Linked DNA regions of Homo sapiens: region 2 is linked to region 1. Evidence: fine-mapped expression QTL. A gene starts in region 1. The other region holds a variant in brackets. All regions are shown on one strand. Distances are between the middles of the regions.

Region 1 (4,521 bases):
CCAAACGCTACTTAGCTTTACTACGTGGGTAAAGGTAGTAATGTTTTCAGTTCTGTTCATTCTATTTCATTTTTGTTAATGCTACTAGGTTGAACCATTTGAAATACATCTGTGTATCAAAACTGTCAAATATGGGCAATTTCATACAGTTCAACCTATTTGTGACACTAATTTTACAATCCACTTCCTTAATGGAATGCATCTCATAGATTAAAAAACATTGCTAAGTGGGCATATTTCCAGTTAATATTATTTTTAAAACTAAAAGAGGACTGAATTTTTGTTTTTGTTTTTCATTTAATATGGCGCGGACATCTTTCCACACTGGTATCTTACAGCTCCACCTCACTGTTTTCTGTTTCTTTGAGACGGTCTAACTCTGTCATGAAAGCTAGAGTGCAGTGGCATGATCACGGCTCACTGCAGCCTTATCCTCCCTGGTTCCCACCTTGGCCTCCTAGGTAGCTGGAACTACCGATGTGCACCACTACACCTAATTTTTTTTTTTTTTTTTGAGACAGACAATTTCGCCCAGGCTGGAGTGCAGTGGCACAATTTCAGCTCACTGCAACCTTCGCCTCCTGGGTTGAAGTGAGCATGTCTGGCTAATTTTTGTATTTTTTATAGAGATGGGAGTCTCCCTAAGTTGGCCAGGCTGGTCTTGAACTCCTGGGCTCAAGCAATCCACTCACCTCTGCCTTCCAAAGTGCTGGGATTAGACATGAGCCACTGCGCCTGGCCCACTTCACTGTTTTAAGGGCTTCATGAATTCACATGCACCTACCCCGGCTCAGGTAACCTGCCCTCACTGGAGGCACTTAGGTTTTTTCCAATTTCTTGCTGTTCCAAACCATGCCACAGTGAACTTCGTTGTTCCTGTGCAGTGCCAGAATGTCTGTGGTGCAGGCTCCTAGAAGCAGGATGGCAGGCTCCTACCTCTAGACATTTCTTTTTTTTTTTTTTTTTTTTTTTTGAGACGGAGTCTCACTCTGTCACCCAGTCTGGAGTGCAGTGGCACAATCTCGGCTCACTGCAACCTCCGTCTCCTGGGTTCAAGCAATTCTCTGCCTCAGCCTCCCGAATAGCTGGGATTACAGGTGCCGCCACCACGCCCAGCTAATTTTTTGTATTCTTAGTAGAGACGGGGTTTCACCATGTTGGCCAGGCTGGTCTTGAACTCCTGACCTCGTGATCCACCTGCCTCGGCCTCCCAAAGTGCTGGGTTTACAGGCGTGAGCCATGGCGCCCGGCCAGCATTTCCCATTTTGATCTTAGCTGCATTTCGAAGCCTCTGGGTAGGCGATATGCTCACTTTCTTCCTTGTGTGTGTGTGATGGAGGGTAAATGGTGCTGACCGAAGGGTCCCACTCAGGCAGCCTATCTGTTCAGCCCTCCTCTGACCACAAGCCCCTTTCTGCAAGATGGGAAGCTCCAGCTTCTTCCAGACCTCTCTCTAGGCAAACTTCATGGAGGCATGAAGACATTGTGCTTTACCATTTACTAGACCTGAGTTTGAATCTCACCCATGCTCCTTAAACACTCTGGATTCCATTATCATAGCTACGAAAAGAATATAAACCTCTCAGGGTTGCAGGGAGGATGAAGCTGAACACGTGAAGTGCGTTGCAAACAGTTACACAGGAGTTAGCTATTGTCCTCAGCTGGTGCTGACAGCTCTTTCCCAAGCATGAGAGAGGCTCTTCCGTGCTGCCTATCCACACTTACCTGCAGCAATAAGGCTGTCTCCTGAGTTTACAAAAGGGCTTGGTCCTTGACCTATTTCCTCACTTCTTCTGGACTTCTTGAGCGCTAAAGTAAAGAATGAAACTCTTGGACAAAGCCATTCATTCAACAACAAATATTTATTGAGCACCTACTACATGCCAGCCACTGTGCTAAGCACCATCTGGGCCTCAGTTTTTCCATCTGCAAAAGTAGGAACTGTGCTTCTGAACAGGGAAACGCTGGGCCTCTGGGTGGGGGCAGCCTTTGGGGCGGGACTGCAATTCCGTCATTGGAACCCAGGGACGCCCCGCATGTTTCCGAACGGCCTCCAGGGGGCACCGCCGCCCTGAACTGAGAGCCACCGGAGCCGGGTAGGGGGAGGCCCAACTTTCCGCTCTGTCAGAGGATGATGCCGAGGGCCCAGATGAGCAGGATTTGGACTGTGTTGCTGGGAACGGGGGCCTACACTGGCCCCAGGATGAGTTCGTCCGTACCTGGGGGCCCTGGGTTCTGACTCTCAGGTCAGACGCAGCCAAGATGCAACTCAGGAACTTCAAGGTTTCCGCTCCGGCCAAGAGCCCCAGTCCGGCAGGGGAAAGGGTGGGGGAGTCGCCCTTGCTCCCCCAGCCTCAGCCCTCGGGAGGCGCAGCGTCAGGGCGGGCGGCAGCACAGAAACCCCCCGCGCCGCTAGAGGGACCCTCGCAGCAGCTGCGCGGGCGACCTCGCGGTCACGTGCGGCAAGGGCGGGACCAAACGAGCGTCCGGCCAATCGACTATGCCGTCGGCGAGCGTGATAGCCAACAGGAACCGGGAGCGGGGTCCCGGGACTGGGAAGAAACGGCGGCCGGGAGGGGGCTCCGGGGACCATGGGGCTCCTGACCATTCTGAAGAAGATGAAGCAGAAAGAGCGGGAGCTGCGACTGCTCATGCTGTATCCTACCGGACGCCGGAACCGCGAGGGTGGCGGGGTCCAGCCGGGCAGGCGGTGCCGGGCGCCCCCTGTCGGGAGCGGAACGCGGCGGCCGGCGCGTCCCAACTGCCCCTGGCGTCACCACGCGGGCCCCATCAATCGCCCCGTCGGGCCGGGAGGAGCCGCACCCCAGGACTGGGGCAGGGGCCAGCTCCGAGGGCCGCAGAAGCGGTCCTGCAGGCGCAGCGGCGGGGCTAGGCGGCCCGAGTGTCAGGGGTGGTGGGTCCCGGAGATAACTCGGACGCCACCACCCGGCGGCCTGGCCCAAGCGTGGGGCCGCTGCCCTCCCGGCTCTGATCTCCTCCCCCGGGCCCGAGGGTTCCAGGCCCCGGCCCCGCCCTCGAGCTCCGAATCCCGGGGGCGTGCGGGGTGGCGGGTGGCGCGTGTGGGCTCCGCGGATCCTTTCGAGCGTGGATCCAACAGTCCGTCTCTTTGGTGTTACGCGGCCCGTGGTTGTCCCTGCGGCTGAGGATGTGTGTGTGTGGGCCCGAGTGTCCCGTGCGCCCTGTGCGCCTTCTGAGTCCAGTTAGGCGCCCGCACCTGTTCCCCCAGCTCTGTGCCAGGCTCCGCGGGGGAATGGCTGGGGAGATAAGACGCTTACGTGCACATATAACTTAATAATCACATCATGACTGTTTTGTTTTTTGAGACAGGGTCTTGCTCTGTTGCCCTGGCTGGAGTGCAGTGGCACAATCAAGGCTCACCGCAGCCTCCAGCTTCTAGGCTTAAGTGATCCTCCTGCCTCAGCCTCCCAAAACTCTGGGAATATAGGCATGAGCCACGGAGTCCGGCCCATGTCTGTTTTATTTTGTTTTGTTTGAGACGGAGTTTCGCTCTTGTTGCCCAGGCTGGAGTGCAGTGGCACAATCTCAGCTCGCTGCAACCTCCGCCCCCCGAGTTCAAGCAATTCTCCTGCCTCAGCCTCCCAAGTAGCTGGGATTACAGGTGCCCGCCACCACGCCCGGCTATTTTTTTAAATATTGTTAGTAGAGACGGGGTTTCACCTTGTTGGTCAGGCTGTTCTCGAATTCCTGACCTCAAGTGATCCACCCGCCTTGGCCTCCCAAACTGTTGGGATTATGGGCGTGAGCCACTGCGCCGGGCCGCATGTCTGCTTTAAAGAGCTCTAAGAAAAGCATACAGTTCACTCATTTGATAAATATTGAGTGCCTAATATGTGCTAGACACTGTCCTAGTGCCCAGGGTAATAAAACTAAAAAATCTTACCTTCATGGAAATTCTGTAATGCGTGTGTGTGTGTGTGGCGGGGGGGTTGCCCGCGGGTAGAAAGATGATAACACAGGAAGTAAGTAAAATATGTAATAGAGGCTGGGTGCGGTGGCACACACCTGTAACCCTAGCACTTTGGGAGGCTGAGGTGGGAGGTTCGCTTGAGCCCAGGTGTTTGAGACCAGCCTGGGCAACATAGTGAGACTCTGTCTCTATTTATACATATATATATTCTCCATACATACTATATATATATGGGCCATGCTTTGGACCATGCTTCTGGGGAACAGGGCCTTATACTGCTCCAGGATGAACTCCCACTACGTATATAGGTATGGAGAATAATGCAATTTAGGGTGGTCAAAGAAGGCCACTGTATGATGGCAGGGCGCAGTGGCTCATGCCTGTAATCCCAGCACTTTGAAAGGCCGGGGCGGATGGATCGCCTGATGTCAGGAGTTTTGAGACCAGTCTGGCCAACATGGTGAAATCCCGTCTCTACTGAAAATACAAAAATTAGCTGGATGTGGTGGTGGACACCTTTAATCCCAGCTACCTGGGAGGCTGAGGCAAGAGAATTGCCAGAACCCGGGAGG
Region 2 (4,000 bases), 63 kb before region 1:
CACCCCTTTTCTTTTCTTTCTTTTTTGAGACAGAGCTAGCTCTGTTGCCCAGGCAGAAGTGCAGTGGTGTGATCTTGGCTCACCAGAACCTCTGCCTCCCAGGTTCAAGCAATTCTCCTCCCTCAGCCTCCAGAGTAGCTGGGACTACAGGCATGCACCACCACCATGTCGGGCTACATCATATATATATATATATATATATATATATATATATATATTTTTTTTTTTTTTTTTTTTTTTTTTTTTTTTTTTCAGATGGCATCTTGCTCTGCCGCCCAGGCTGGAGTGCAGGGGCGTGATCTCAGCTCACTGCAATCTCTGCCTCCCGGGTTCAAGCGATTCTTCTGTTTCAGCTTCCTGAGTAGCTGGGATTAGAGGCGCACACCACCACGCCTGGCTAAATTTATTTTTAGTAGAAATGGGGTTTCACCACGTTGGTCAGGCTGGTCTTGAACTCCTGGCCTCAAGTGATCCTCTTGCCTCGGCCTCCCAAAGTACTGGGATTACAGGCATAAGCCACCATGCCCAGCCTGCACCCCTTTTCAAATCAAAAGGGTAGGTGTTTACTTGTCCCTCAATCAACAAAAACACCCATGGCCTTCAGAGAATAAAAATTTGGGCTAGGCACAGTGGCTCATGCCTGTAATCCCAGTGTTTTGGGAGGCCGAGGTGGGAGGATCGCTTGAGCCCAGGAGTTTGAGACCCAACGGTGCAATATAGTCAGACCCCTGTCTCTACTAAAAAAAAAAAAAAAAAAATTAGCCGGGGATGGTCGCACACACCTATAGTCCTAGCTACTTGGGAAGCTGAGGCAGGAGGATCACTTGAGCCCAGGAGTTAGAGGTTACAGTGAACTATGATCACACCACTGTACTCCAGCCTGGGTGACAGAGTGAGACCCTGTCTAAATAAAAATAAAATTGGGAGATACCTTTAAGATAGCTCTAAAGTGAAAATCATAGAATTCTCTCTAATGGAAGGGTTTATATAATAGTTATCTTTCATTCAGTGATTAAGTCAGGCTTTGTACTTTTCATCTACTACTATTTAATCCTTTTAACAACTCAATGATATAGGTAGTAATATTATTCTTCACCATTTCACAAGGGAGGCATAGAAAGATTAATTTATCTAACTTCACACAGCCATTAAGTGGCAGGACCACCAGTATTTGAACCGGTCAGTCTGGCCTGGAGCACATGATCCTGACCTGTGCACTGTATGGCTGGAGCCTAATCTGGTAGCCCCTTTCGCGATACCTAGCTGGCACAGCTAAACCATTTTCTTCTCTGCCATCCACATTCACATCATTCCACTTACCAGGTGACAGGTTTTCATGGAACCATTTCATCTCCACATATAGAGTAAAAACAAATGGGTAGGGGATCAAGATAATTTCCCCATGTTTGAATTTCAGGTGGGAAACTCTCTCCCATTTGCTTTTATCTGGAAAATGGTGCTAAGGAGTAAGGAAAGATGCCAGTATGCATTCCTAAGTACTATTTTAGGGATGAGACTCTCTCTCCTTCCCCTGACCTACCCTCCAAACTGCCTATGGTTTTGCTACGTCCATTTGAGTCTAAAATGTGAGCTGTAGCTCATTTCCAGCCAGAAAAGAAAGGATAGGCTGGGCGCAGTGGCTCATGGCTGTAATCCCAGCACTTTGGGAGGCCGAGGCGGGTGGATCACCTGAGGTCAGGAGTTCAAGACCAGCCTGGCCAACATGGTGAAATAGCGCCTCTACTAAAAATACCAAAATTAGCCGGGTGTGGTGGCATGTGCCTGTAATCCCAGCTACTGGAGAGGCTGAGGCAAGAGAATCGCTTGAACCTGGGAGGCTGAGGTTGCAGTGAGCCAAGATCATGCCATTGCACTCCAGCCTGGGTGACAGAGCAAGACTCCATCTCAAAAAAAAAAAAAAAAAAAGGATACAGGGAAATACAATGAAGTGTTCTGTAGCAAAGGGCTGAAGATTGTCCAAGTTTCCCAAGACCACGCGGACAGAATCCTGAAAAACATATTTGAAATGACTTTAACACTGTTGAGTCTCAGCCAGTCTTTGTTTATATTTGTCACTGCTAC[T/G]CACATACCCTATACACTATCAAAACTGAACTATTTGCTGTTCCTTTAACACGTGTTCTGATTCTCCATTTCTTTTTCTTTCTTTCTTTCTTTTTTTGAGAGAGTCGTGCTTTGTGGCCCAGGCTGAAGGGCAGTTGCATGATCTCTGCTCACTGCAATCTCTGCCTCCTGGGCTCAAGTGATCTTCCCACCTCAGCCTCCCCAGTAACTGGGACTACAGGCGTGCACCACCACACCCATCTAATTTTTTTATTTTTTGTAGAGATGTGGTTTCACCATGTTGCCCAGGATGGTCTTGAACTCCTGGGCTCAAGTGCTCTGCCCTCCTCGGTCTCCCAAAGTGCTGGGATTACAGGCATGAGCCACTGCACCCAGCCCGCTTCTCCATTTCTATGCTTTTGCATAGAAAGGGAATTTCTCTTCCTGAAATGCCCTTTCCACCCATCAGCACTTGTCCAAATCCGACCTATCCTTTCAGGCATAGTTCAAAAGGCATCTCCTCCAGAAATCTTTCCCTGATTTACCAAGTTATAATTGTTAGTATCAAACTTCACAGTAGTTAGCCTGGAGTCTTTACTACATTCCACATACAAATGTTTTATATTCCTTACTGGGAGATCTACTTGAAGTAGAATATACACCTGACTTATCTTAGTATCCCTTCTATGGTGTCTACCATCATGAATAATGCATAACAAGTCCTCACTAAATGTACATTGAATGAATGAATAATACTGGTATTAACTGATATACAGTATTTTGCTTTTGTTTAAGTCAAACCTTTTTTTCACTCACTTTAAATTTTAATCGATTAGTCCCTAATTAAGCTATATGCTTATTAGTCTATACTAATTAATTTGGCATCATAAAGACTACTAAATTTCTGTGGGGAAAAAAGTCTCAATTTCAATCCCAGCCTTGTCATTTCACCCTAAGCTTCAGTGTTCTCATGTTTGTGTTCAAAGAAGATAGAAACTGTGGCCAGCGCAGTGGCTCATGCCTGTCATCCCAGCACTCTGCGAGGCCAAGGCAGGTGGACTGCTTGAGCCCGGGAGTTCAAGACTGGCCTGGGCAACATGGCAATACTCCATCTCTACAAAAAATACAAAAATGAGTTGGGTGTGGTGGCACACGCCAGTAGTCCCAGCTACTTGTGAGGCTGAGGTGGGAGGGTCACCTGAACCTGGGAGGTCGAGGCTGCAGTGAGCTATGATTGCATCACTGCCCTGTAGCCTAGGCAACAGAGCAAAACCTTGTCTCAAAAAAAAAAAAAAAAAAAAAAGATATTGTGTCTTGTTTATCTTTGTATTCTCCATAGTAGCACAGTGTCTAGCTTATAATTATACTGGCTAATATTTATTGAGTAATTACTATGGGAAGTGTTACTGTTTTTTGTTTTTTTGAGACAGAATCTCGTTGTGTCACCCAGGCTGGAGTGCAGCCGCACAATCTTGGCTCACTGCAACCTCCACCTCCTGGGTTCAAGCAGTGCTGTGCCTCAACCTCCCAAGTAGCTAGGATTATAGGCACACACCACCACGCCCAGCTAATTTTTTGTATTTTTAGTAGAGATGGGGTTTCGCCATGTTGTCCAGGCAGGTCTCAAATCCCTGAGCTCAGGCAATCTGCCCACCTTGGCCTCCCAAAGTGCTAGGATTACAGGCATGAGCGACCACGCCCGGCCTTTTTTTTTGAGATGAAGTTTTGTTCTTCTTGCCCAGGCTGGAGTCTGGAGTGCAATGGCTTGGTCTCCGCTCACTGCAACCTCTGCCTCCAGGGTTCAAGCGATTCTCCTGCCTCAGCCTCCCAAGTAGCTGGGATTACAGGTGCCTGCCACCACACCTGGCTAACTTTTGTATTTTTGGTAGAGATGGGGTTTCACTATGTTGGCCAGGCTGGTCACAAACTCCTGACCTCA

Evidence for each region. PIP is the estimated chance that this variant, and not a neighbour inherited with it, causes the effect.
Region 2: its variant is the best candidate, but not a certain one, in a credible set for the expression of ARL2 in whole blood (TOPMed, PIP 0.77).

Annotation. Positions count from the first base shown.
Region 1 is chr11:65,011,617-65,016,137 of GRCh38, forward strand. It overlaps ARL2 (ARF like GTPase 2), which reads left to right and starts at 2,544. Exons shown (of 5, transcript NM_001667.4): 1 at 2,544-2,656. The coding sequence starts at 2,592. It overlaps ARL2-SNX15 (ARL2-SNX15 readthrough (NMD candidate)), which reads left to right and starts at 2,544. Exons shown (of 11, transcript NR_037650.2): 1 at 2,544-2,656. RefSeq lists a silencer at 2,391-3,150.
Region 2 is chr11:64,948,423-64,952,422 of GRCh38, forward strand. MAJIN (membrane anchored junction protein) reads right to left here. Exons shown (of 11, transcript NM_001037225.3): 5 at 1,933-2,008; 6 at 1,321-1,446. Among named protein-coding and RNA genes, the nearest start is that of GPHA2, 15 kb to the left of the region's middle. The variant T/G (reference allele first, on the strand shown) is at 2,083.